Regions from separate parts of the Homo sapiens genome. Here regions 1 and 3 are each linked to region 2. The links come from fine-mapping of genetic effects on plasma protein levels. Region 2 holds a variant in brackets. A gene starts in each other region. All regions are shown on their forward strands.

Region 1 (8,158 bases), not on the chromosome of region 2:
TGATCCTTCCTCTGGAAGCTTCGTCTCAGAGGGGCACCCGGCTGTATGAGTTGTCAGTTGGTCCCTACTGGGAGGTATCTCCAAGTTAGGCTACACAGGGGTCAGGGACCCCCTTGAGGAGGCAGTCTGTCCATTCTCAGAGCTCAAAAACCATGCTGGGAGAACCACTGCTCTCTCCTGAGCTATCAGACAGGTACGTTTAAGTCTGCAGAACTTTCTGCTGCCTTTTGTTCAGCTATGCCCTGCCCCCAGAGGTGGAGTCTACAGAGGCAGGCGGGCTTCATTGGGCTGTGGTGGGCTCCGCTCAGTTCGAACTTCCTGGCAGCTTTGTTTACCTACTCAAGCCTCAGCAATGGCAGATGCCCCTCCCCCAGCCAGGCTTGCCACCTTGTAGTTCGATATCAGACTGCTGTGCTAGCAGTGAGCAAAGCTCTGTGGGCATGGGACCTGCTGAGCCATGTGTGGGATATAATTTCCTGGTGTGCTGTTTGCTAAAACCGTGGGAACAGCACAGTATTTAGGTGGCAGTGTCCCAATTTTCCCGGTACAGTCAGTCATGGCTTCCCTTGGCTAGGAAAGGGAAATCCCCTGACTCCTTGCACTTCCTGGGTGAGGCGATGCCCACCCCTGCTTTGACTTGCCCTCCGTGGGCTGCACTCTTTGTCCGCCCAGTCCCAGTGAGATGAACCAGGTACCTCAGTTGGAAATGCAGAAATCACCCATCTTCTGCGTCGATCAGCTGGGAGGTGCAGACCAGAGCTGTTCCTATTTGGCCTCTTGGAACGGACCTAAAGAACACTCAGAAAATATTTCAAGGTAAACCCAGAAGGTTGTGTAGGTGTTGGCCAGGTAAAGAGTAGGGAGAGAGAATATCTCAGAGAGCAGACACAGCACAATGAAGGCCCAAATAGGAAAGCTGATTGGCATATTTAAGGAGCAGAAAGGAGGACAATGGACAGAAATACAGGGAGTGAAGAAAAAAATTATGTTAGATGAGCCTAGGAGGTATGTAGGGTCCAAAATATGTGGGGCCTTATAGTTCAATGGAAGAATTTTGAAAACATTTTACACTTCATATGATATTTAATTAGACATTCATGTTAGTGGAAGCTCCACTTTGATAATCTAAATTTGAGGCCCTTGATGGAGTTTTTCTGAGCTAGACGTATCGCCCTGGTTTCCAGGTATGAAATCTGAGCTGAAGGGAGAGATTTCAGGATCATAAGCTGTAGGAGTAGATGAGCTTATGTGTGCAGTAGAAAGGTTAAGGCTAAGACTATGGGTACAGAAGGGTGAGTCAGCAAAGGAGATGGTGGTACATTCAGAGAAAAAGGAGGTGAATCAGAGAGACAAGAGAAAGTAATGGTTAAGAGATGTCAAATATCTGATAAAGATCCATGTGGTTTGCAATTAGAAGGTCTTACTGATAGCAGGTTTATAACTTGATTCAGATAGAACCTAGATCACAGTGGTTTCATGACTACACCTATGGTGAATAACCAGAGACAATGAATAGAAACATCTTTTTAAAGAAGCCTTGCTACAAGACTTGCTCTTCTGGCCAAGATGAAGAAACAGGAACTGGATTTACCCTCCCTGCTGAAACAACTAAAACACTAGACAAAAATAGATGAAACAACACTTAAAACATTGGACATCAGTAAAGGACAGTAATATCTTAGAGATAGAAAACAAATGACAAGAGCCATACAATGGTCCCAGATCACTGCCTGATATGGTTTGGCTGTGTCCTCACCCAAATCCCATCTTGAATTGTAGTTTCCTTAATCCCCACGTGTTGTGGGAGGGACCTGGTGTGAGATAATTGAATCATGGGGGCAGTTACCTACATGCTGCTGTTCTCATGATAGTGAGTGAATTCTCACAAGATCTGATGGTTTTATAAAAGGTTTTTTCCCCTTTGCTCGCCACTTCTCTCTCCAGCTGCAATATGAAGAAGGACGTGTTTGCTTCCCCTTCCACCATAATTGTAAGTTTCCTGAGGGCTCTCCAGCCATACAGAACTGTGAGTCAATTAAACCTCTTTCCTTTATAAATTACCCAGTCTTGGATATTTCTTCATAGCAGCATGAGAATACACTGCCTGAAGGAGTCATCCAGGCTACAGTGCAGAAGGAAGGAATTGAATCATCCTGGCCAAGGAGCTGGGGCTGGAAGTGTAGGGAGCCAGGGCAGCTAGTGTCCACAGGAAGATTATCAGGTAAAAGAAAGAATACTCTGAAAGTCTGAAGGGTGTCCCCCTTGAGGATTTAGTTGATTATTGATCAGATTATACACAAGAACAAACCACCTGAGACCAGGAAAAGAACTACACAAAAAGATAAGGGTAAACTGTGTCTGATGCTGACCAAGGGCTGGGAATAGTGTCTATCTGAACAGCCAGAGGGGAGAGCTGTGCAATTTGAGGTGTGCGTGTTGGGGGGAAGTCAGTTACCAGTTAAAGTAAAAAGAAGGAATTTTGCCTCAAAGTGTGGAAAGAGTAAACCTAGTCTAAAACCAGCTCTGGTCCCACCTAACAAAACTCACATCCAAGACCTGAATGGATAAAACTGTCTTTAAATTTTTAATTGTCTCAGAACAAGCTCAAGAACAGTCATAGAAAGACAAAAAAACAAATAACAAGGTAAAATCCACAATATCTGACATCCTATCAAAAATTATCAGGCACACAAAGAAGAAGAAAAATATAAGCCATAATGTGGAGAAAAATCAATCAACCCAAAGTATACAAAAATCACACAGATGTTAGTAGTACAAAAGTTATTATTAATGTATATTCAAGAAGCTAGAGAGAAGAGTGGACACGTTTAGATACGGAAGATATAAAAAAGATTCATTGCTTTATATTGTCCTGTAACTTAAAAAAAAGATTCAAGTTGAAACTCTAGAGATGAAAGCTACCAGGTATAAGGTGCAAAATACACTGGATAGGATTGGCAGTAATCAGATATTACAGAAGAAAACATTAGTGAACTCACAGACATAGCAATAGAGACTATCCAAAATAAAATATGAAGGAAAAAATGAGCAAAACAGAAGCAAAAACAGATCACCAACAAACTGTGGGCCAATATACACTCACCGTCTGACTCAGCCATTCTGGTTTTAAGTATTTTCCAAGAGAATTAAAGGCTTTATGTCCATACAAAGACTTGCATATGAATGTCAAGGCAGCTTTATTCGTAAAAGTTTCAAGTGAAAATAACCAAAAATTCATGAGCAGTAGAATTGATTAAAAATTTTGAAGTATATCATATAATGAAATACTGCCCAGCAATAAAAAAGAATAAACTATTGCTACATTTAACAATGTGAGTGGATTCAAAAATAATGATGCTAAGTGAAAGAAGTCAGACAAAGAGTACCTACCGTGGAACTATATTTATGTGCAATTCTAGAAAACGCAAACAAATCTCTAGTGATAGCAGATCAATGGAGGAGGGGGTGAGGAAGAGGCAAAAGGAAGGAATTACAAAGGTACATGTGGAAATTTGGGGAAGTGATGTATAATCTTCATTTTCTTGGTTTCAGTGATGGCTTCCTGAGCATATAACACACATGCATATGTGTAAGAATATATCCAATTGAATATTTTACACATTTGTAGCTTTGTATATATTCAGCAGTATCTATTCATTCCTTCTGCTTCTTTACCTTAGGTTTAGTCATGAAACCACTGGGTTTCATGTGGTCCAGGTTCTATCTGAATCAAGCTATGAACCTGCTATCAGTAAGACCTCCTAATTGCAAACCACATGGACCTTTACCGGTTATTTGACTTCTCTCGGTCATTACCTTCTCTAGTCTCCACTGATTCACCTCCTTTTGAATCTCAACAAGCTCAACAGTATCTCAATGTTATCTTAACAAAGCTGTTAGAAATAAACAACTTGACTTTGAAACAAAGGAGAGAAATGGCTCAGCAGCTAGGAGAAGATGCAGGGTTGAGTTGCCAACAGTTGGTTTTGTTTGTATTTTGGCCAGGGGATGTGGCTTGGACTGGAGAGAAAGGAGATAAGGATGTAAGCACATGTAGGGCATATCACCCCCTATTTTTTATTCTCTGAATCCTTAACCCTCAGAATAAGTTCTTATTCTTGAGAATCAATGACATTATCTTAAGCTAAATTAATCAAGCCTCCACAGTGTTCTTCTCTCAATAGTGGTGTGGGCCTTCCTAGAAGTAATTTTTCCCAAATTCAGTGATACATTTTAAGTTCAGATTTTAATTGATATGAATCTGTGATACACTCTAAAATAAGATTATTTTATTGAAAAGTGGACTGTAACTTTCCCTTTATCTAGGAAGAGCTCTAAGTTAGAAGATGTTTTGCACTTTTACCGAAGGCTGTGTCTTGTAAGCACCCCCGAGCAACTCTGAGAGCCTTGATTTTTGTGTCCTCAGCATATGTTTGTGTAATACAGAAAGAGAAGCAGTTGCCAAGTGAAAGGGATGTTGGTCTCCAAAATTATAGTTTGATCCCACAAACACACAAACACATACATGCAAAGGATTGTTTGCTTCACGGTTTTTGATATTTAATTCAATGCTGTTGGAACAGCACAAAAACTAAGTGTCAGTTTAACAGAATCACTTGTCCTTTTAGCATTAAAATAACATGGAACTTAATGCTTTAATTTCCCAACATGCCTTTTTATTTAGAAAGATTCAGACTTATATTTCATTTAGAAATAAAATGCCATTTTATTTAGAAAGATACAGGAGCATTCATTCACGGAACTTTCAGATCTCAGTCCACTGCATAAAATCTTGATCCTGTAATAATAGTTTCTGTATCTTGCATATTCATTCAACAGGTTTAACGCGATGAGCAAATTAATGTTCATCGTTTTTAACATGTTTCATCTTAATCAGAACCCACATTCTCAACGTTAATTGAACGTACATAGGACTATACAAGGGTTAGTAAATAAGACAGAAACTGTTGTTCATTTAACCACCGTCACTTTGGACCAAAAAAGAAAAAATATATATTTTTAAAATTGAGCTTAAAAGAGTCTCTAGAAGCTGGAAGCGTGGCTCTTTTTCAGCAAACTGGGGGAATAGGTTTACCGTGTTCCCCCTCTGGGGAATTTTGAGTCGCCACACTCATGTCTCGACCGAGCCTGGCTCGCTGCGTCTGAGCGAGTACTTGAGGAAGGCTGATCTAGAAAAACCAGCTGAGAGAAGGGGCAGAAGCCCCTGAAACCACGGGCGGGGGTGGGGTGGGGAGCGCAGCTTTGGGACCCTCTAGCCGGAGACTTCCGGCAGCTGCCTCCGACTTGTTCTAAGTACAGGAAAAATCTGTGCGCCCAGTTGCCTCACTCCAACAGCGCGCAGTTGTGCCCGGCGAGGATGCCGCGCTAGTCGTGGAGATGCCCCACCACAAAGAGGATTCAGGTGCTTCCTACTCCGGCACCCAGTGGGTTGGTAGTCCTGTTGGCAGGAGACAAGAATCGTCTGGGCTGCTCCTATCTCTGGCAGGACTAGACGGGGCGTGAAGGAAAGAAGGAAAGAAGGAAAGCAGGGATCGGGCACTGCCCGAGGGCAGATACTTGGGCTTTGGTGTTGTCCAGCGCGCTCGGAGTGCGCTGCCTCGCTCACGCGGTCCCAGGCCCCGCTTCTTCAGGCAGTGCCTGGGGCGGGAGGGTTGGGGTGTGGGTGGCTCCCTAAGTCGACACTCGTGCGGCTGCGGTTCCAGCCCCCTCCCCCCGCCACTCAGGGGCGGGAAGTGGCGGGTGGGAGTCACCCAAGCGTGACTGCCCGAGGCCCCTCCTGCCGCGGCGAGGAAGCTCCATAAAAGCCCTGTCGCGACCCGCTCTCTGCACCCCATCCGCTGGCTCTCACCCCTCGGAGACGCTCGCCCGACAGCATAGTACTTGCCGCCCAGCCACGCCCGCGCGCCAGCCACCGTGAGTGCTACGACCCGTCTGTCTAGGGGTGGGAGCGAACGGGGCGCCCGCGAACTTGCTAGAGACGCAGCCTCCCGCTCTGTGGAGCCCTGGGGCCCTGGGATGATCGCGCTCCACTCCCCAGCGGACTATGCCGGCTCCGCGCCCCGACGCGGACCAGCCCTCTTGGCGGCTAAATTCCACTTGTTCCTCTGCTCCCCTCTGATTGTCCACGGCCCTTCTCCCGGGCCCTTCCCGCTGGGCGGTTCTTCTGAGTTACCTTTTAGCAGATATGGAGGGAGAACCCGGGACCGCTATCCCAAGGCAGCTGGCGGTCTCCCTGCGGGTCGCCGCCTTGAGGCCCAGGAAGCGGTGCGCGGTAGGAAGGTTTCCCCGGCAGCGCCATCGAGTGAGGAATCCCTGGAGCTCTAGAGCCCCGCGCCCTGCCACCTCCCTGGATTCTTGGGCTCCAAATCTCTTTGGAGCAATTCTGGCCCAGGGAGCAATTCTCTTTCCCCTTCCCCACCGCAGTCGTCACCCCGAGGTGATCTCTGCTGTCAGCGTTGATCCCCTGAAGCTAGGCAGACCAGAAGTAACAGAGAAGAAACTTTTCTTCCCAGACAAGAGTTTGGGCAAGAAGGGAGAAAAGTGACCCAGCAGGAAGAACTTCCAATTCGGTTTTGAATGCTAAACTGGCGGGGCCCCCACCTTGCACTCTCGCCGCGCGCTTCTTGGTCCCTGAGACTTCGAACGAAGTTGCGCGAAGTTTTCAGGTGGAGCAGAGGGGCAGGTCCCGACCGGACGGCGCCCGGAGCCCGCAAGGTGGTGCTAGCCACTCCTGGGTTCTCTCTGCGGGACTGGGACGAGAGCGGATTGGGGGTCGCGTGTGGTAGCAGGAGGAGGAGCGCGGGGGGCAGAGGAGGGAGGTGCTGCGCGTGGGTGCTCTGAATCCCCAAGCCCGTCCGTTGAGCCTTCTGTGCCTGCAGATGCTAGGTAACAAGCGACTGGGGCTGTCCGGACTGACCCTCGCCCTGTCCCTGCTCGTGTGCCTGGGTGCGCTGGCCGAGGCGTACCCCTCCAAGCCGGACAACCCGGGCGAGGACGCACCAGCGGAGGACATGGCCAGATACTACTCGGCGCTGCGACACTACATCAACCTCATCACCAGGCAGAGGTGGGTGGGACCGCGGGACCGATTCCGGGAGCGCCAGTGCCTGCACACCAGGAGATCCTGGGGATGTTAGGGAAAGGGATTGTTTCTTTTCCTTCGCTCTATCCCAGGGCAGGACAGTATCAGGCACTTAGTCAGCTCTAGGTAAATGTTTGTACAGGGCACACTCTACACAAAATGGGTACCTTCCATTTTGTGCAACTACAGTCACAGAGTCGTGATCCCCAGATTCAGGTTCCCCAGGCTGGTAGGCTGGCAATCTCCTCTCACTCACCTCTTATGGTTTGTTGTGGTTCTTACGGCAGTGGGGCCCGGTCCAGAAATCTCGAAAGTACCCAGTGAAAGGGGCAAGAATGCGCCAGAGAAATGCTGTAGGGGGAAACGCTAGCAAGGTGTCTAGGAGAAACAGAACGACCACCAAAGAAAACCAAACCAAGGAGTAAACTGCAGGGTTGCCACAGACATTGTCAGACTTTCCGGCCTGCCCAGGGCTAATTGAATGACAGTATTTAGAAAAAGACAAATAGAGCTATTTTCTTTTCTTCTTCACTGTGTTTTTTTTGCAGTCTCACTCCCATATTTGAAAATTCTAGTCCCAATAATTAGAGATTTAGCCTGAAAACAGTTTATCTAAAATGCAGAGGTCTCCCTATTTTATAGCTGGTGAATTCTGAAAAGAAAGTGCCCACTTGGTATTTCATTAAGAAGAAACTTACGTTGGTCCAGTAACTTTAGGATGAATTCAGGGATTACATGGAATCTGAGAAATTGTAAACTTTATTCTGAACATTCCGAAAGTCAAAATGAAATGCCATATTTTCACTCTCAACATTGACAATTAAGGGAAAAATCAAATCCAAACTATTTTACAAATTACATAGGATTTAAATTTTGTTTTCAAAATTGGTTGATCTTAGTTCTAAATCATTTAATATCTTATTTTAATTACTGAGATTAAATGATTTTAGTCATTTGACCGTATCTAAAGGATAAGCCCTTTAGAAGCATTAATGTTAGTTAACATGTTTAAATTATATGTTTAAAGTATTGTGGGGTTTATATATTTATTTATTT
Region 2 (8,180 bases):
ATAAAATGGGGATGACTATGCTACCCTACCTATACCATGAGCTAAATAAGCTAGTATTTGTAAAGGACACACACTTACATTCACAATCACACACGGTGTGTATGTGTGTATGTATGTATAAAAATGTGGGGACCTAACCCACTCAACAAATACCCTGAGTATTTGTTGAATCATTATATGCGTATATCATCTGGCAAATGGATGTGTATAATTTCTCCAGGGATAAGAAGCAAATGTATACCGATGGAAAGCCTTACTCAGGCCATAACAAAGAGAGAAATGCTGAGTCCCACTCCATGAACAGGTCAAGGAACCAAACATATTCAAAGAGTTATTTCATTGTTTCAACTTGCTAGTGAGGGGAGCATGGCACCTGAACAGAGATGATATAAATTAATGAAACTGAGAACCAAGCGAAGAGCTTAGCCATCCTTTGCATAGTTAGCTACAATGGCTATTTATTTTTCAGCCAGACTGGCCATCATGTAGGCACACTCTTTTAGATTAGAAAAATCAACCATTATTTTTTCTGCCCATTCATTCCAGCACCGTGACAGTCTTCACGGGGAAATTAAACTTATTTTTTTAAGAATTTTTCAATCATATACAAGATTTTGAACTGGGAATTTCATGAATCAAAAATTAAATGAATTGCACATAAAGCCATGGCATATGTATTTTTACTACATTGTGGGAGAAAAAATAATTCTTATAATTTAAAAAAACTATGTCTTACCTGATTTCAGAAATAAAAGAAGTAGAAGAACCACTTCCTTATGTTCCATTTTGGGACTGGCCAGCAGTGCCCAGAAAGTGTGTCCCAATCCCAGGACATTGTTGACTTACATGAGAGTAAACGCACCCACAAACCAGATAGTCAAATTAAGTTAATGATTCTCTCAGAGACCCATGCCACTGGCTCAGCAGGGTTCAAACATTACCTTGAATATAGAGTCTTATAAAATATTTGAGAGTGCAATGTCAATAGATGCTGGGAAGTGGTGAAAGCCATTTCCCCCCTCAGCTGCTCCACATTGCCTTTATGTCTCCTTACTCCTTCCCTCACCCCTAGACCTTCATCTTTCCTGATTAGTCTTGTTTCCTCCCCTCTTCTTTCATTCTCTTTCTTTTGGATAAAATAAAATCATAAAAGTAGCTCATATTTGCTGGTAACTTCCATGACCAGACCCTCTGCCAAGTGCTGCACATCCATAGCCTCCCTCAAGCTTTCCAACAGGCAGTGCTGTACGAGGAGGGGGCTGAGGCCTTCCCGAGGTTGTGTCGCTACCCAGGGGTGCAGCTGATAGACACAACCCTTTCAGGTCTTAGTTTACGAGCAAGCTAGGTATAAATGTTAACATCTCCACATCCTATACCAAACTGTGCCGAAATGACAACATAAGTGAAAATCTTTTATTATCTTCAAAATTTATTTATTCCTAGTGAACTCACATGTTTTCTGTAATTATAAATTATGTTATAAGATATCAATCCTTCCAGGAGGGGGTGGTGGCTCATGCCTATAATCCCAGCATTTTGGGAGGCCACGGCAGATGGATCACCTGAGGCCAGGAGTTTGAGACAAGCCTGGGCAACATGCCAAAACCCTGTCTCTACAAAAAATACAAAAATTAGCTGGGTGTGGAGGCACATGCCAGTCATCCCAGCTACTAAGTAGGCTGAGGCACTAGAATTGCTTGAACACAGGAGATGGAGGTTGCAGTGAGCCAAGAATGTGCCACTGCACTCCAGCCTGGGTGACAGAGCAAGAATGTCTCAGGAAAGAAAAAAAAATAATAAATACCAAATAAAATTAATAAAATATCAATCCTTCCTATTCTAGTAGTTGTGGCTTAAATAAATAAATAAATATTTTTAAAAATAAAACATAGGGTCGAGTGCGGTGGCTCAACTCTGTAATCCCAGCACTTTGGGAGGCCAAGACAGGTGGATCACAAGGTCAGGAGTTTGAGACCAGCCAGGCCAATGTGGTGAAACCCCATCTCTACTAAAAATACAAAAATTAGCCAGGCGTGGTGGTGGGCACCTGTAATCCCAGCTACTAGGGAGGCTGGAGTATTCACTTGAACCCAGGAGGTGGAAGTTGCAGTGAGCCAAAATCACGTCAGTGCACTTCAACCGGGGTGAGAGTCTCAATAAAATAAAATAAAATAAAATAAAATAAAATAAAATAAAATAAAAGCATAGTATCAATCTTTCCGCAAATGAATTCATGGTGCAATCTTACATTTTCGTTCTCATGAAGTAAAGCAAGAGTGGTAGAATTAAGTGGAAAGAGTCTATCTCTAGTGTAGTCACGTCAGTGGTTGTGTCAAGATGGTTAGGAGGCTCCTCCCGTTTAAAACAGTATCCAAGCCCCAGTTGTAAATCAATTGGGGAGACACGCCAACTCTGATCATCAGCAATATCTGAGCTCCAGTCTCAGATATTGTGTGCAGTTAGTCTCTGTCCTGTACCCTCTACCTCCTTCCCTACCAGAAAAATCACCACTTTAGTCCCTGGCCACCGGGACACCCCAGGAGGGTGAGTGGTCTGAGGTAGTTATGGCACTTATGGCTCCCTTGCTGCTGATCTGGAACTCAAGCCCCAAGAAGTCCCCTTGGATGATCTGAATATACATTTGGGACAGATCTAGGGAGTTTCTGAGCAACACTTAGACTGGGGTCTTCCATTGATTAAATCCTACTTGAATTCGCTACTTTGGGACTCAAGTCTAAGGGACTGAGACTGAGACAGGAGAGCACAAGACTAACTTTGGTCTCTTGATCTTTTCTTACCTTGCAACTGTCAATGCCTCCAGCCAAATGCCCAGCACAGAGCTCAGTGGATTTGACTCTTCCATTCAGAAACTCATAGCGATTGCACACTTCATTCTCAATCACAGGGAGCTGGGCTTCCTTGAGAAAGCCAGCCCCAAAGGTACCTGTGTTTAAAAAGATGAAAGAAATGGTAACTACGTCCACAACATGTTCACAAGGAAACTCCAGAAGAACAGAGCAGTGGTGATGGACCTCCTGTCTGTCCGTGAGGCTGTAGAACACAAGGCAGCTCCCAATGCTGCCAGACTCTCTGAACCCTGGAGAGTGTAAACGTCATATAAGAGTCTATGTTCCAAAAACCTGGATTTAACAATCTGAGCTTTGTCATGGTGCTTTGCGGTTGGTTGTTGTTTCTTTACCTTTTTCTTTGCTTTTAAAACCATAAAGAATAATGTTTAAATGTAGAGTCTGAGAAATGCAATTGCTATTGTTTTTATATTTTCAGACTTTTTGTATGCTTCTTTCACTAATTACATCATATCACAAAATTTCACACCCTGATTTTTTCACTCAACATTACATAATGAGTTTTGTATAGTGCTATGATCTTCATAACTAATATTTTAAAGGAGAGCTACTGATTAATGAGCATGAGGTTTCCTTTGGGGATGAGGAAAATATTCTGGAAATATGATGATGGTTGCACACCACTGTGAATGTACTAAATGCCACTTGGTGGTACCCTGCAAAAATGGTTAAAATAGTAACTCTTACGCTGTGTACATTTTATTGCAATAAAAAAGAATAGTCATCATTTACTAAGCATTATCCTTTCCAGGCACAAGCTTATAATGTGGTGTATCTCACTTCATCCTCACAACAGTCCTATGAAACAGGCAGTTCCATCACTCCTGCTCTACAGTTAAGGAAACTGAGGTGTAAGGAGGTTGTCTAGTTCAACCTGAGCCTGGGTCTGCGGAGTCACTGCCCAAATGCTTCCTCCCCGTGCGCGTTGGCCCCCCTCTTGCTTCCAACCCTCCACATCTTTGTTCATAAAGTTCATTCTTATTCCTTAATATTTTCTGAGCCTAAGTTCCCATAAATTATATAGACATATTTCTGTCTCCCAATAACACTGCCAATTTATTTTCTAGAAGGTTATGACAGTGTAAAATGTCACTAGAAAACAATCACTTCACCACACTTGTATGAGTGTTCAATTTTTAAATATTAGCTAATCTAACAGGTTGAAATTGTCCTGATTCATTTTCTAATTTATACTTCTTTGACAATTTGGGAGAGTGAAGATTCTCCTGGTTGTGTTTATTCTTTTGTGAAAAACTGCTTTATTTTCTTTGCCAAATTCAAATAGAACGGTTGCAAAATTGCCAGAGGAAATGCTGTTTTTCCAGATGGACACACCCAGGGATGTTTCAGTGTTCTCACAAATAATCCAGTTTTCTAATTTTGCAAGCCCAGCTTTCATTAGAATTTTGCAAAAATCCTTGCTTTGCGAGCATGGCACAGGCAAGAGATGAGGCACTCTCTCTTTCTTCCCCCAGAGCCTTTGACTGCACTTAGATCATTGACTTTGGTTCAGAAACCTGACTGCATCTGGAGTTGACATGAGCAGCATGGAAGATGTTTGTCCCAGCACCTCACTCCAGAGGCCAGCTCAGCTCAATCTGGGCAGAGCTGCATGATGGAAGTTTCTGACTACCAAGCATCGGGCAGAGGGTGCATCACCTGGACTACATAGTTGTGTGAGGGAGCACCGTTCTCTAGAATCTGCTATTTGAGCAAGGCAAACATCCTGATAATGGTGAAAACCTACCGCAAGTTGCCAGGAAAGTTGATGTGGTCTGCGAGTAGGTGCTGCCATCCAGTGGCCGACATAGAGATGTCATCTCTGAGGGCAGGTAGGCCACAGGTGACAAGAGGATTGAAGCCCTCCCTGATGGGGCCTTGGGGAGAGGGCAGCAGGGTAAGTCCAGCGGCAGGATCAGTCCATTGATTGTGGATGACGACTGACCTGGAAAATCCCCTTGGCCTCAACACCTCCAAA[C/T]TCTGCATTTGATCCAAGTCAGGGAACACCTGGAAACATGAAGGGGAGAGCAGGAAAACTTTGACCTCCCTCTCAGAGGCTGAGAACGCCAATTGACCTGATGTCATTATTGACATGTAGAAAATTGATGAACAGGCCTGAGTTATGTTTTGTGGCACCTCATGGTCTAGTTAGTGTTCTGAGAATCATTTTCTCAGTGGACCTGCAGGTGAGACCAGGCGAGGCAGAAGCCTAGTGGGGGATGGTGGTTAGAAATGTGTGGATGGTTGTGGGGCAGAAGAAACAGCAAGTAGGCTCTGGGCCAGCTACAAACTGGTTATATGATGTCTACTGATGATGATAGTGATGGTGGTGGTGGTGGTGATGGTGGTGGTGGTAATAATTGTGATGGTGGTGGAATGATGATGATGGTGGTGGTGGGTAGTAATGATGGTGTTGGTGATGGTGGTAGTGGTCGTGGTGATGGTGATAGTGATAGTGATGGTGGTGGTAATGATAATGCTAATGGTGGTGGTAATGATAATGATTATCATGATGATAGCGGTGGTGATGGTGATGGTGATGATAATGGTGATGGTGGTAGAATGATGATGATGGTGATGGTGGTGGTGGTGGTAGTAATGATGATGGTGGTGGTGATGATGTTGAGGGTGATGATAATAGTGACAGTGGTGGTGGTAATGATAATGGTGATGGTGGAATGATGGTGATGGTGGTGGAATGATGATGGTGGTGCTGAGTAGTAATGATGGTGATGGTGGTGGTGGCTGTGGTGATGATGGTGGTGGTAGTGGTAGTAACGATGATGGTGGTGGTGATGATAGTGATGATGGTGATGATGTTGAGGGTGATGATAATAGTGATAGCGGTGGTGGTAATGATAATGGTGATGGTGGCGGTGGTGATGATGTTGATGAAGATGATAATGGGAGTGGTGGTGGCAATGTGGATGGTGATGATGATGTTGACGATGATGATGCTCATCACAATCACCTTATATGTTAGTACAGGTAAGAAAGCCAAGGCTAAAAGAGATTAAATAACTGCCCAATGTCACATGGAAGATGGTAGAGCCAGAATTCACACCCAGATCCTTATGATTTTAGCTTGGTGCTTTCATCAGTTGAGGTATTGGAGAGGATCTGTTTGCTTTCTGGCTGCCCAGCAGTCTATCACCCTACATCCCATAATCCTGTTGAGGGATCCACCCTTTGCCCTTCTGGGTATGAGTGGGGTCCTGCCTCCACCTCTAGCATGTAATAGCTGATGCAGGTTGGAGCCAATCAGTGATGGGTTCAGGGACAGGCCTGTGACCCAAGTTCAACCTCTCAGACCTGGCCAACTATTGTTCACTTAATGGGGACAGTGGCCTTCCTCAGTCTTTCCTGGCAAAGCAAGAGCTGCCACAGCATCTGCCACCACAAGAATCTCACCTTTGTGCCCAAGGATGATGCCTACTGCATGGCTGGACAGGGCCTGGGCCCTGGGGCCATCATGTGAGCCTAAAGACTTTTCAGCTCAACAAGAATTCCCCTTTTTTGCTTAATCCATCTTAAGTTGGATTTTCTGTCACTTGCAAGAAAGAGTCATGTTAGATACAACTCTATTCTGTATATTAGTAGGAGCTGCCATGATGGAGTGCGTAGCACGTGCTCGACACTTGATGCACATTCTTATTGTTTCTCCCCCGACAACCCTGCAGCCCCCATTTCATATAAGAAAACAATCAATGAGAGTTCATGACTTTTCTAAGTCCCGACAGCCAGTAAGTGGGAACCAGGGTTCCAATTCAGGTCTCCCTGTGCCATCCTGCACCTTCTCTGAGCCTCAGGTTCCTCACTTGTAAAATAGGAACAATAATATCTAAGTCTTAGAGGTTTGCAGCATTTAAATTTTTATAAGTGCAAAACACTGGGAGCAGCCTGGCACACCCAAAGGTGTTCCTCTTTTGCCAAGTTTCCTTTTAGTTGGCCTCAGTGTTCCCAGACTCAGGAGTGCAGAAAGGGGGATCAAGAAACCAAGGAGGATGACATTTTAAAAATAGTAGAAAAAGCACAGAAAAAGGAAAGCAAACTTTGCAATTATCTAGACCAGTGGTTTTTAACCTTTTTGTTAAACAAAAAACAAACAAACAAAAACCTTTCTTCAAATGACAGCTTATGCAAAAGGCTGATGTGGAAAACACCACTTGAAAATGCTGGTTTTACAAATGAGGGGTTGGAGTCAAGTCATACAAAGAGTTAACGTGCCTAGTCCAGGTCTGTCTGGCTAGTGGCAGAGTCAGAACGCTTTTCTAGGGCTCCAGACTCATAATGTCCTCACCAGCACCTCTGAGAAAGTCAGCAGAGTCAGAACGCTTTTCTAGGTTCCAGACTCATAATGTCCTCACCAGCACCTCTGAGAAAGTCAGGCAGAGATCCCAAAACAGTCTTAGTGTTCCAGTGGTCAAGGGGGTAAGTCTGATAGATATAATTATTGTCAGGGCATACTGAAAAATGAAGAAGGAATCCCTAAGATGTAGTCCAGGTGCTGATACCACATCCTGCACAGATGTTCCCTCTCTTTCTCTCACCCATCAACCAATACCAAATACTATCCTAGATTTGGGGCCATGGGGCCTGTCTGCCTCTCCCTTAGCTGCAGGTCCCCTGCCTAACACCCTCCCACACACATTAGACATGTGGATTTGGTAAGAAGGCTAGTTTATTATAACTTTTGTCATTATTGTTTTACATCATGTTTAGAAATACAATCTGGCTAATTTCACATAAAAAATAATCTAACACCCTTAAGGGCTGGGTGAAAACCCCACTTACCTGAGGAAGCAATATGAATGCTGGAGTTATGAATTCAGAGACTCAAAGACCTTTACTGGTTTTCTGCTTGTTTTAGGTATAAAGGAAATACACAATCATTAAAATAAAAAATGGATCACACCCCAAAACTTCAACAGCAAAACTATTTTGCTAACATGCCCCACTATGAAACCAAAGACAAGAAGTCAGCTACAAATAAAGACCCTGTACAAGGCCTTGGCCCTGTGAAAACCTCCAAAGAAGAAGTCTATTGGCTGTACTCAATCTACACTGCAGTTAAAGAAACACCCACACAGAGACATGAGAAAGAACCAACGTAAGAACTCCAATAAATCAAATGGCCAGAAGGTCATATGTCCTCCAAACAACTGCACCAGTTTTCCAACAAGGGTTCTTAACAAGACTGAGCTAACTCAAATGACAGAAATATAATTCAGACTACGGATACAAATGAAGATCATCAAGATTTAGCACAATGGCAAAATCCAATTCAAGGAAATTAAAAATCACAATAAAATA
Region 3 (8,153 bases), not on the chromosome of region 2:
ACGCCACTCTGGAGCTGTGTGCTGAGAAGAAAGGGGAACTCGGTTTCTCATTACTCTTGTGCTCAGAAACCCTGTCCCAACAGGCATCCCCCTCGCTGAGGGGGTGGGATTAATTGGCCAAATACTTGTATATGAACTTCCAGACCTGCAAGGGCCACCCTTGTTCTCCCAAACATTGCCTTCAGGAGATACTGCCCAGCCAGCAGTTCAGAGTTGGGAGAAAACCCTCGATAAACTGGCTCAGCAATTCCCCAGGAAGGCTCACCCCGCAGGCCAACGCGAAGACACGATGATCCCAAAGACCTTAGTGTCTTGGCGGGGGGAGGGGGAAGAGGTGGGGGACTTTTCCGCTTAGCTTCCCTAAGGGTTGCTACGCGACAGCTCTCGGGCTACGTCAGGGTAAAGAGGTTTGTATGGCCACACCTCGCACCGACCAACTACCCCCGAAACACCCCCTCCTCCCAAACTGCAGGGTGAGCACAGCGAGAGAAAAGGTGGCCCAAGCAGAGGCGAACAACTGCGGTTCTTAAAGCCTTGTTTGAGTTTGGGCCCGCGCCGAGCCACAGCTAGAGGTAGATCCCGCTCCTGCGCGTCCGCTATCAGCCCCAGGATTCCCAGAGAGGCCTCTCAGGCCCTTCAAGACCCCCCCTTCCGGCTTCCCGGCCTACACCTCTGAACCCTCAGGCCCCGGACAGCCTCTATCCCCGCCTTTCGCGGCCCCGGCTCACCCTCTAGCGTCTCGCACTGCACCAGGTTGAGGTAGTCGGCCTGGCTGAGCACCCCGGCCTTCAGGCCGCGCACCAGTCCCTCCAAGTAGCCATTGTCCACGTTAAAGTAAAGCTCCGGGAAGAACGACATGGCTGCTGCGGGAGCGGCGGGACCGGAGAACCAGGACCGGCCGGCACGAATCGCGACTCCCCAGGTCAGCTGACGCTGCGTCCTCAGCGGGCTGTCAAGTGCGTCAGGTGACGCGCAAGCGCCTCACGTGACCATAAGGGGGCGTGGCTCTGAGCGGTGCCCGGCTTCCGGGTGGCTGCGCGGAAGCGCGGTGCAGGCGTGGGCTGGCCCTGCGGCGCCTGCGCGCTAAAAAGAGGAAGTTTGAGGCCGGCCGCTTGGTGGCGCCTGTGGCCGCAGGGATTTGACTGGGCCTTCTCTAGCTTTCCCCGGTTTGCTGCACTTGACGCTGCAGGGCGGGCGGGGTAAAGAAGGGAGCGAGCCCTTCTCAAGCTTGGAAAGTTTCCAGACTGCTGGGCCAGCCTCCTCCCCAGAGGGAAACTGAGGTCCGATTGAGGTAGGAGAATAGGGTCTGGAGGCGGGGAACTTGAGGCCAATACGTGCTGAATTCTGAAGCTGAATCAAGGGAAAACACCAAGGTCTGGGGGCAGGGAACCGGAGGCCAACTAAGGCGAGCTTACTAAAGCTAAACCAAAAAGAAAAACCCCATCTCCCCATGTCCAAGTAACAAAGGATCAAAGGCCACTGTCCCCACAACCCTCCCCCTTCCACCACGTCTCAGTTGAAAGGGAGAGTGCCTTGGATTGGCTGCGGGCCAAGCACGGGCCATCCCTTCATCTGCATAGGGCGCCAATTCACCTTAGCCCCATTTATGCCTTGTGTTCCATTATTGGAACGCTAAGCATATGGGAGTTATTTATATCCTACTGCTCAAGGTCATGGCCAAGGTCTGATTGCAAAAATTCAAAAAGATTGCAACCTCAGGCATAAATGGATTAATTAGCCATGGACCAAACCCTTCATCCAGATAAGGGGTAACGGACAGGGACCGCAAAAGGAGTACTTAAAACCCGGAAAACTTTGTAACTGAGCCCCTTCAGCCTCTTGCTCAGGCCCACTCCCACCCTGCGTAGTGCTTTCTCGCTTTAACAAATCCCAGCTGTCTGCTTCCTTCCTGTGTGTCATTCGTTTGTTACTTTCTGGGTTTTGTTCAATTCTTTGTTCGAAACGCTAAGGACCTGAACAACGCACACTCCTGGCCTTCCCTCTGGTAACAGGATGAGGGGCAGGCTTTGCGTGGAAGTAGCAGCAAGCCCTGGAGCCTAAGGCTTATTTGTTAGCCAGGAGTGATAGCCCCTGTGCCACGCTGCGTCCTGCGTTCCCCGCACTTGCTGTACAAGATTTTCGAAAGCTGGAGTGCGGCTCTTCTCTATTTTTCCCAGGGGCACCAGGACCCCTAAAAGCGCCCGTGTATGTGCCTCCTATGATAGGGTAGCCCAGGCCCTGGGATAAGAGTATGTGTGGTTTCTTGGCTTGGTGACACTCCCACCCCCTCCATGAACCCTCCCTCCTTTGACGGCCACGTTTGAAATAACCACAGCCTTGGGGTTGGTCCCATCCTTTATTCGAGTTTCCTTGCCCCTACCCTAGCCCCGACCCTGACGTTGGCCAGCTAGGTGCGGCTGCAGGGATTCATGGCAGTACCCAGCTTGCGGCAGTAGCAGAAGGCATTGAAGAAGCGGCAGTAGCACGTGGCACATGGGTCACAGCAAGGCACCTGCTGTCCCAGGCAGGACTCATGCAGCCTTACGCAGCGACGTGAGGAGCGGGGCTCGCGGTCCTGCAGGTCTAGTACCTGCAGGGGTGGGGAACCAGCACAGGCCTCTAAAGACAGATCCAGGGATCTTACCTGTCCCAACCTGTGCAGGATGGCAGTGGAGCATGGGAAGGGGTGGTCGGTAGTGTCGTCGCTGGTGAGGGAGTTTGGAGCTGGGGAGAGGAGCTAATACCCAATGCCCCCTCCCAAGGGCCACCACCTTACCCTTTTCCCTGAGCAGTTACCTCTGCCAAGGCCTGAGCCTCCTGCAACAGATCCTCTTCTGCCTGTTCTGCAGTTGTCTTCTTCAGTGGGGCCCGCAGGCCCAGGCCTGGGGCAGAGGATGTGAGGGCAGGAACCCCCATGCACAAAGCACCCACCTCCCAGGGGAGGGTTTGGGAAGGGAGAAAGAGGGTTTATGCCAGGGGAGACTATTTGTGGCCAGAGGGTATTCAGGCCCCGCCCAGTCCCACCCTTGCTCACACTGACCTGGGAGCTCTGGGAGCAGGGCCTGGTCAGGCCTTCTGATGCCCTCCATGGGGGCCAAGCCCATCTGGGCTCCTCGCGTGGCAGGCAGTGCCAGCAGCAGGGCACAGCTCAGCACCGCTGCGGTCAGCATGGCCTGGCTCAGCAGGAAGATGTACCACTTAGTCCCTCCTTATCCTTGGAGTCCCCTCTAGGTGCCCAGATAGAGACCCCACAGAGAGGAGGAGTCCCTGCCCAACCTGAGGACTCACCTCTGCCTCCGGGATTCTTGCCTAGAGAGTTCCCGGCCACCCCGTGCCCTTGGCTTATATGGCAGGGCCTAATGAAGGGCCACACGTGACTGATCCCTGCAGCCAGGCCGTGAAGGACCCTTCCTGGAGGGTGGGGGCACAGTTCAGGCCCTCACTCCCTGAACCTGAGCCTTTTGTTCTACAAGAGGAGTGCCTATCTCCAATTTGGGGTGAGGTTTCCAGGAGCCGATTAAAATTTGGGAGCAAGAGAGGGTGCCCAGGGTCCACAAATTTCCACAGGACAGGGACCTAGGAGCTGAGCAGGGCTAGAACCATTAGCAATAACAAGGCAGGCGGCCCTGAAAGCTTAATTTAATTTGTGGCCCCAGAGATGCTTACTCAACCCCTATGTGGCATGTTGTTTCCTGTGCTTCCAAGAATTCGGGTCAAGGACATTGGAGCGGGTGATGGGCCAATGGCCACTGTTGGGCAGGGGTAGGTGCAGAACCAGAACCTGGGTTTCTTTGGAGGGAAAGGGGAAGGAAAAGCCCACCTAACCAATCCTAGGCCCTCCTGACTACATTTCTGGTCCTCCCCTCCCTTTCTCCCTCCAGGTTTCTCCAAGACCGCCCACTCCTGCTCCTGTCCCCAAACCCCTTTCTGCCTAGGGTTCCTGGAAGCCAAGGAAACAGAACGAACTGTTCCCTGGGTGGGCGAGCCACTGCAGAGTACAAAGCTTTCAGGCCGCCTGCCTCATTAGCACTAATGGCTGCTCCCTTCCGCCCTGTGTCGTCAGGACTGTCTATGCCTGGTCTCATCAGCACAAGGCTGGGGTAAGGACTGCCCTTTTGTGGAGATGGCAGGACATACAGGACCCTGCTGCCCCTGCCTTCCCTCACCCCACTGCAGAGCTGTTTATCACACACGTGTCCATCTGGGAAAGGAATGCAGGCTGAATCAGCTTTGAGAGGATCGCAAGGCCCCAGTGCACAAACTGGGTTGGCACAAGGCAGTGGAAAAAAGATGAAGGGGGCCAGGTATGGTGGCTCACACCTGTAATTCCAGCATTTTGAGAGGCCAAGGTGGGAGGATCACAAGGCCAGGGGTTTAAGACCAGCCTGGGTATCATGGTGAGACCCCGTTGCTACAAAAAATAAAAAAATAGCTGGGTGTAGTGGTGCATGCCTGTAGTAGAGGCTGAGGTGGGAGGATGGCTTGAGCACAGGGATTCAAGAGTGCAGTGAGCTATGACTGCATCACCACACTCCAGGCTGAGCGACAGAGCAAGATCCTGTCTCAAAAAGAAAAGAAGATAAAGGGTGGCCAGGCACGGTGGCTCACGCCTGTAATCCCAGCATTTTGGGAGGCCAAGGTGGGCGGATCACTGGAGGTCAGGAGTTCAAACCAGCTTGGCCAATATGGTGAAACCCTATCTCTACTAAAAATACAAAAGTTATTCAGGCATGGTGGCACATGCCTGTAATCCCACCTACCCGGGAGGCTGAGGCAGGAGAATCACTTGTAACACGGGAGGCAGAGACTGCAGTGAGCAGAGATCGCACCACTGCACTCCAACCTGGGTGACAGAGTGAGACTCCATCTTAAAAAAAAAATGCTATTTAAAATGAAATGAAGCAATCCATACTCCCAACATTTATATATACTGGGACATCCAAGAAATTAAAATCACACCTCATTATGTCTTTTTCTTTGAGTCAGGGTCTCACTCTGTCACCCAGGCTGGGCCTGGTCAGCACCCATGCTATGGAGAGCTCTTCATGGTCTGGTGTGGACAGAGTGGGAGTGGAAGATCTCCTCCCACACAGGTGCTCAGTGTCTTACCTCACCTACGGGCAGCAGCTGTCTTCACCTGAGTGTGTGCACACAGGTGTATCAGCCCCATGGGCAGTGATGGACGAGGGCTGAGGCACTCACAGGGCAGCCCATGCCCCGGTCAGGTCCAGTGGGGGAGATATCAAGAAAACCCAGCGCCAAAATGCAATGAGCTGTGATCGCGCTACTGCACTCCAGCCTGGGCGACAAAGCAAGTTGCCGTCTCAAAAAACAAAAACAAAACTAAACAAAAAAAAAAAAACGGCCAGGTGTAGTGATTCACACCTTCTTGAGCCCAGGAGTGGCAACATAGTGAGACTCTGTCTCTACCAAAAAAAAAAAATTTAATTAGCTGAATGTGGTGATGCACACCTGTAGTCCCAGCTACTCAGGAGACAGGGAGGAGGATAGCTTCGGCCCAGGAGATTGAGGCTGCAGTGAGCCATGGTGGTGGTGGCTCACGCCTATAATCCCAGCACTTTGGGAGGCTGAGGCAGGCAGATCACTTGAGCCTAGGAATTCGAGGCCAGCCTGGGCAACATGGCGAAACCCAGTCCCCATTAAAAAAAAAAAAAAAAAAGGCCAGGTGCGGTGGCTCACGCCTGTAATCCCAGCACTTTGGGAGGCCGAGGTGGGCAGATCACAAGGTCAGGAGATGGAGACTATCCTGCCTAGCACAGCAAAACCCCATCTCTACTAAAAATACAAAAAAAAAAAAAATTTAGCCGGGCGTCATAGCGGGCACCTGTAATCACAGCTACTTGGGAGGCTGAGGCAGGAGAATGGTGTGAACCCAGGAGGCAGAGCTTGCGGTGAGCCGAGATCGCGCCACTGCACTCCAGCCTGGGTGACTGAGCGAGACTCTCTCAAAAAAAAAAAAAAAAGTTTCACAGCCGGATGCAGTGGCTCACGCCTGTAATCCCAGCATTTTGGGAGGCCAAGGTGGGCAGATCATGAGGTCAGGAGTTCAAGACCAGCCTGGCCAACATGGTGAAGCCCCATCTCTACTAAAAATACAAAAATTAGCTGGGCATGGTGGCACGCACCTATGATCCTAGATACTTGGGAGGCTGAGGCAGGAGATTTACTTGAACTGGGACCCAGGAGGCGGAGGTTGCAGTTAGCTGAGATCGTGCCACTGCACTCCAGCCTGGTAACACTCCAGCCTGGTAACAGAGTGAGACTCCATCTCAAAAAAAAAAAAGTTTCACTATGTGGGTAATTTTACGGTAAGGAACCAGCCTGATATTCCCAGGACAATGCTTGTTGGCAAAAGGACCTTCAGAAATATGTGGCATGTTCTGGGAGGAGGATTTGGGAAACCCTGGGGGAGGCAGAGCCTCCTAAGTGAGGGTGTGGGCCCGGAACACAGGGACTCTGTGCAGGGAGGAGAAAGGGGAGAGTGTGCATGCTCGTTCCAGAGACCACATGAGGACAGAGAGGGGTGCTCAAACCCTCTCCCTTCTCTTCTTTTTCCTCCTGCAGTGTACTCCCCTTCAAGGGCCCTGTTCCCACCTTGTCCAGGGGAGAGGGTGGGGGGTGCAGGGAAAAACTGCAAGCACCCGTGGCTCTGTCAATCAGGGTTGATTTTGAAACCCCTACCCAGCCCATTGCCCCTGCCCCAGAGAGCACAGCCATGTGTTTCCTGTGAATCATCTGTAGGATTTCCTAAGGCAGAGGTTGCCTGGAGAGGCACGGTCTCCTCAGTCATTCAGGGAGAGGAGAAGATGGATGGGGGTTCTCTCGGGCTGGTGTATTGAGCCCTGAGCTAGAGAGGATCTGTGATTGTTAATTTTGTGTGTCAACTTGACTGGGCCAGGAATGCCCAGATATCTGGTTAAATATTATTTCTAGGTGTGCCTGTGAGGGTGTTTCCAGAATCATCCAATCCTTTGAGGGTTGGAATAAAACAAAAAGATAGAGAAAGTTGGTGCCGTGGCTCATGCCTGTAATCCCACCACTTTGGGAAGCCGAGGTGGGAGACTGTCTTGAGCCCAGGAGTTTGAGACCAGCCTGGGTAACATACAGAGACCCAATCTCTACAAAAAAATTTAAAAATAGCCAGACACAGTGGTGCACATCAGTGGTCCCAGTGACTCCAGAGGCTGAGGTGGGGAGGATCGCTTGATCCCAGGAGGTTAAAGCTGTAGTGAGCCATGATCACACTACTGCATTCCAGCTTATGCACATGAGACCTTGTCTTAAAAAAATAAAAAATTTTAAAAAAGAAAGAAAACTGGAAACAATCCAAATATCCATCAACAGCAAAATGGATAATAACATTATAGTGATATAATTGGGCCAGGCACAGTGGCTCACACCTGTAATCCTGGCACTTTGGAAGGCCGAGACGAGTGGATCACTTGAGCTCAGGAGTTCCAGACCAGCCTGAGCAACATGACAAAACCCTGTCTCTTCAAAAATTACAAAAATTAGCTAGACATGGTGGCGCAAGCCTGTAGTCCCAGCTTCTCGAGAGGCTGAGGTGGGAGGATCACTTGAATCCAGGAGGCAGAGGTTGCAGTGAACCAAGATTGCACCACTGCACTCCAGCATGGGTGACAGAGTGAGACCCTATCTCAAACAAACAAACAAAAGTATGTTTATATAATTGACAACTATACAGCAATGACAAGAGAATAAACTACTGCTACACACTGCAACATGAATGAATTGCACAGACATAAGGTTGAATGAAAGAAGCATGCTGCAGAAGAGTGAGGATGGAATGAATCCAGCCCTATGACATTCAGACCCAAGCAAAATTATAATAAATGGTGATAAAACACAACAGCGGTTAACTCTGGGAGGGTGGGAAATTATTGACTGAGGGGGGAAATGAGGAAAACATGTGAGGTGTTGGAAAGGTTTTGTATCTTGATCTCAGTGGTGGTCACGCAGGTATATAAGTATGTAAAATTTCATCAAGCTGCACATTTAAGACTTGTGTATTTTGCCAAGTGCAGTGGCTCACACCTGTAATCCCAGCACTTTGGGAGGCCAAAGTGGGCAGATCACCTGAGATCAGGAGTTCGAGACCAGCCTGGCCAATA

Which allele goes with the higher level. Positions count from the first base shown, and alleles are read on the strand shown. Strength reflects both the effect of a copy and how common the allele is.
With allele C in place of T in region 2, the plasma level of the protein whose gene starts at base 5,849 in region 1 is lower (weak association).
With allele T in place of C in region 2, the plasma level of the protein whose gene starts at base 3,319 in region 3 is higher (weak association).

The links. PIP is the posterior inclusion probability: the model's chance that the variant is causal. The UK Biobank Pharma Proteomics Project read protein levels with antibody pairs (Olink). The fine-mapping took linkage between variants from a reference panel, not from the people measured, so its PIPs are less certain.
Region 1: NPY starts here. The variant in region 2 is fine-mapped to the plasma level of the NPY protein (UK Biobank, PIP above 0.99).
Region 3: AGRP starts here. The variant in region 2 is fine-mapped to the plasma level of the AGRP protein (UK Biobank, PIP above 0.99).

The regions. Positions count from the first base shown.
Region 1 is chr7:24,278,342-24,286,499 of GRCh38, forward strand. NPY (neuropeptide Y) reads left to right here and starts at 5,849. Exons shown (of 4, transcript NM_000905.4): 1 at 5,849-5,934; 2 at 6,900-7,087. The coding sequence starts at 6,900. The region is part of intron 2 of LOC107986777 (a long non-coding RNA gene); the gene reads right to left. RefSeq lists an enhancer at 1-983.
Region 2 is chr6:160,663,430-160,671,609 of GRCh38, forward strand. It overlaps LPA (lipoprotein(a)), which reads right to left and starts at 846. Exons shown (of 39, transcript NM_005577.4): 1 at 737-846. The coding sequence starts at 785. The variant C/T (reference allele first, on the strand shown) is at 4,846.
Region 3 is chr16:67,480,229-67,488,381 of GRCh38, forward strand. It overlaps AGRP (agouti related neuropeptide), which reads right to left and starts at 3,319. Exons shown (of 4, transcript NM_001138.2): 1 at 3,289-3,319; 2 at 3,041-3,173; 3 at 2,797-2,882; 4 at 2,343-2,590. The coding sequence starts at 3,170. The coding sequence ends at 2,408. ATP6V0D1 (ATPase H+ transporting V0 subunit d1) reads right to left here and starts at 929. Exons shown (of 8, transcript NM_004691.5): 1 at 729-929. The coding sequence starts at 858. It overlaps ATP6V0D1-DT (ATP6V0D1 divergent transcript), which reads left to right and starts at 1,166. Exons shown (of 4, transcript NR_184227.1): 1 at 1,166-1,291; 2 at 3,882-4,100. RefSeq lists enhancers at 480-719, 880-929 and a silencer at 1,040-1,209.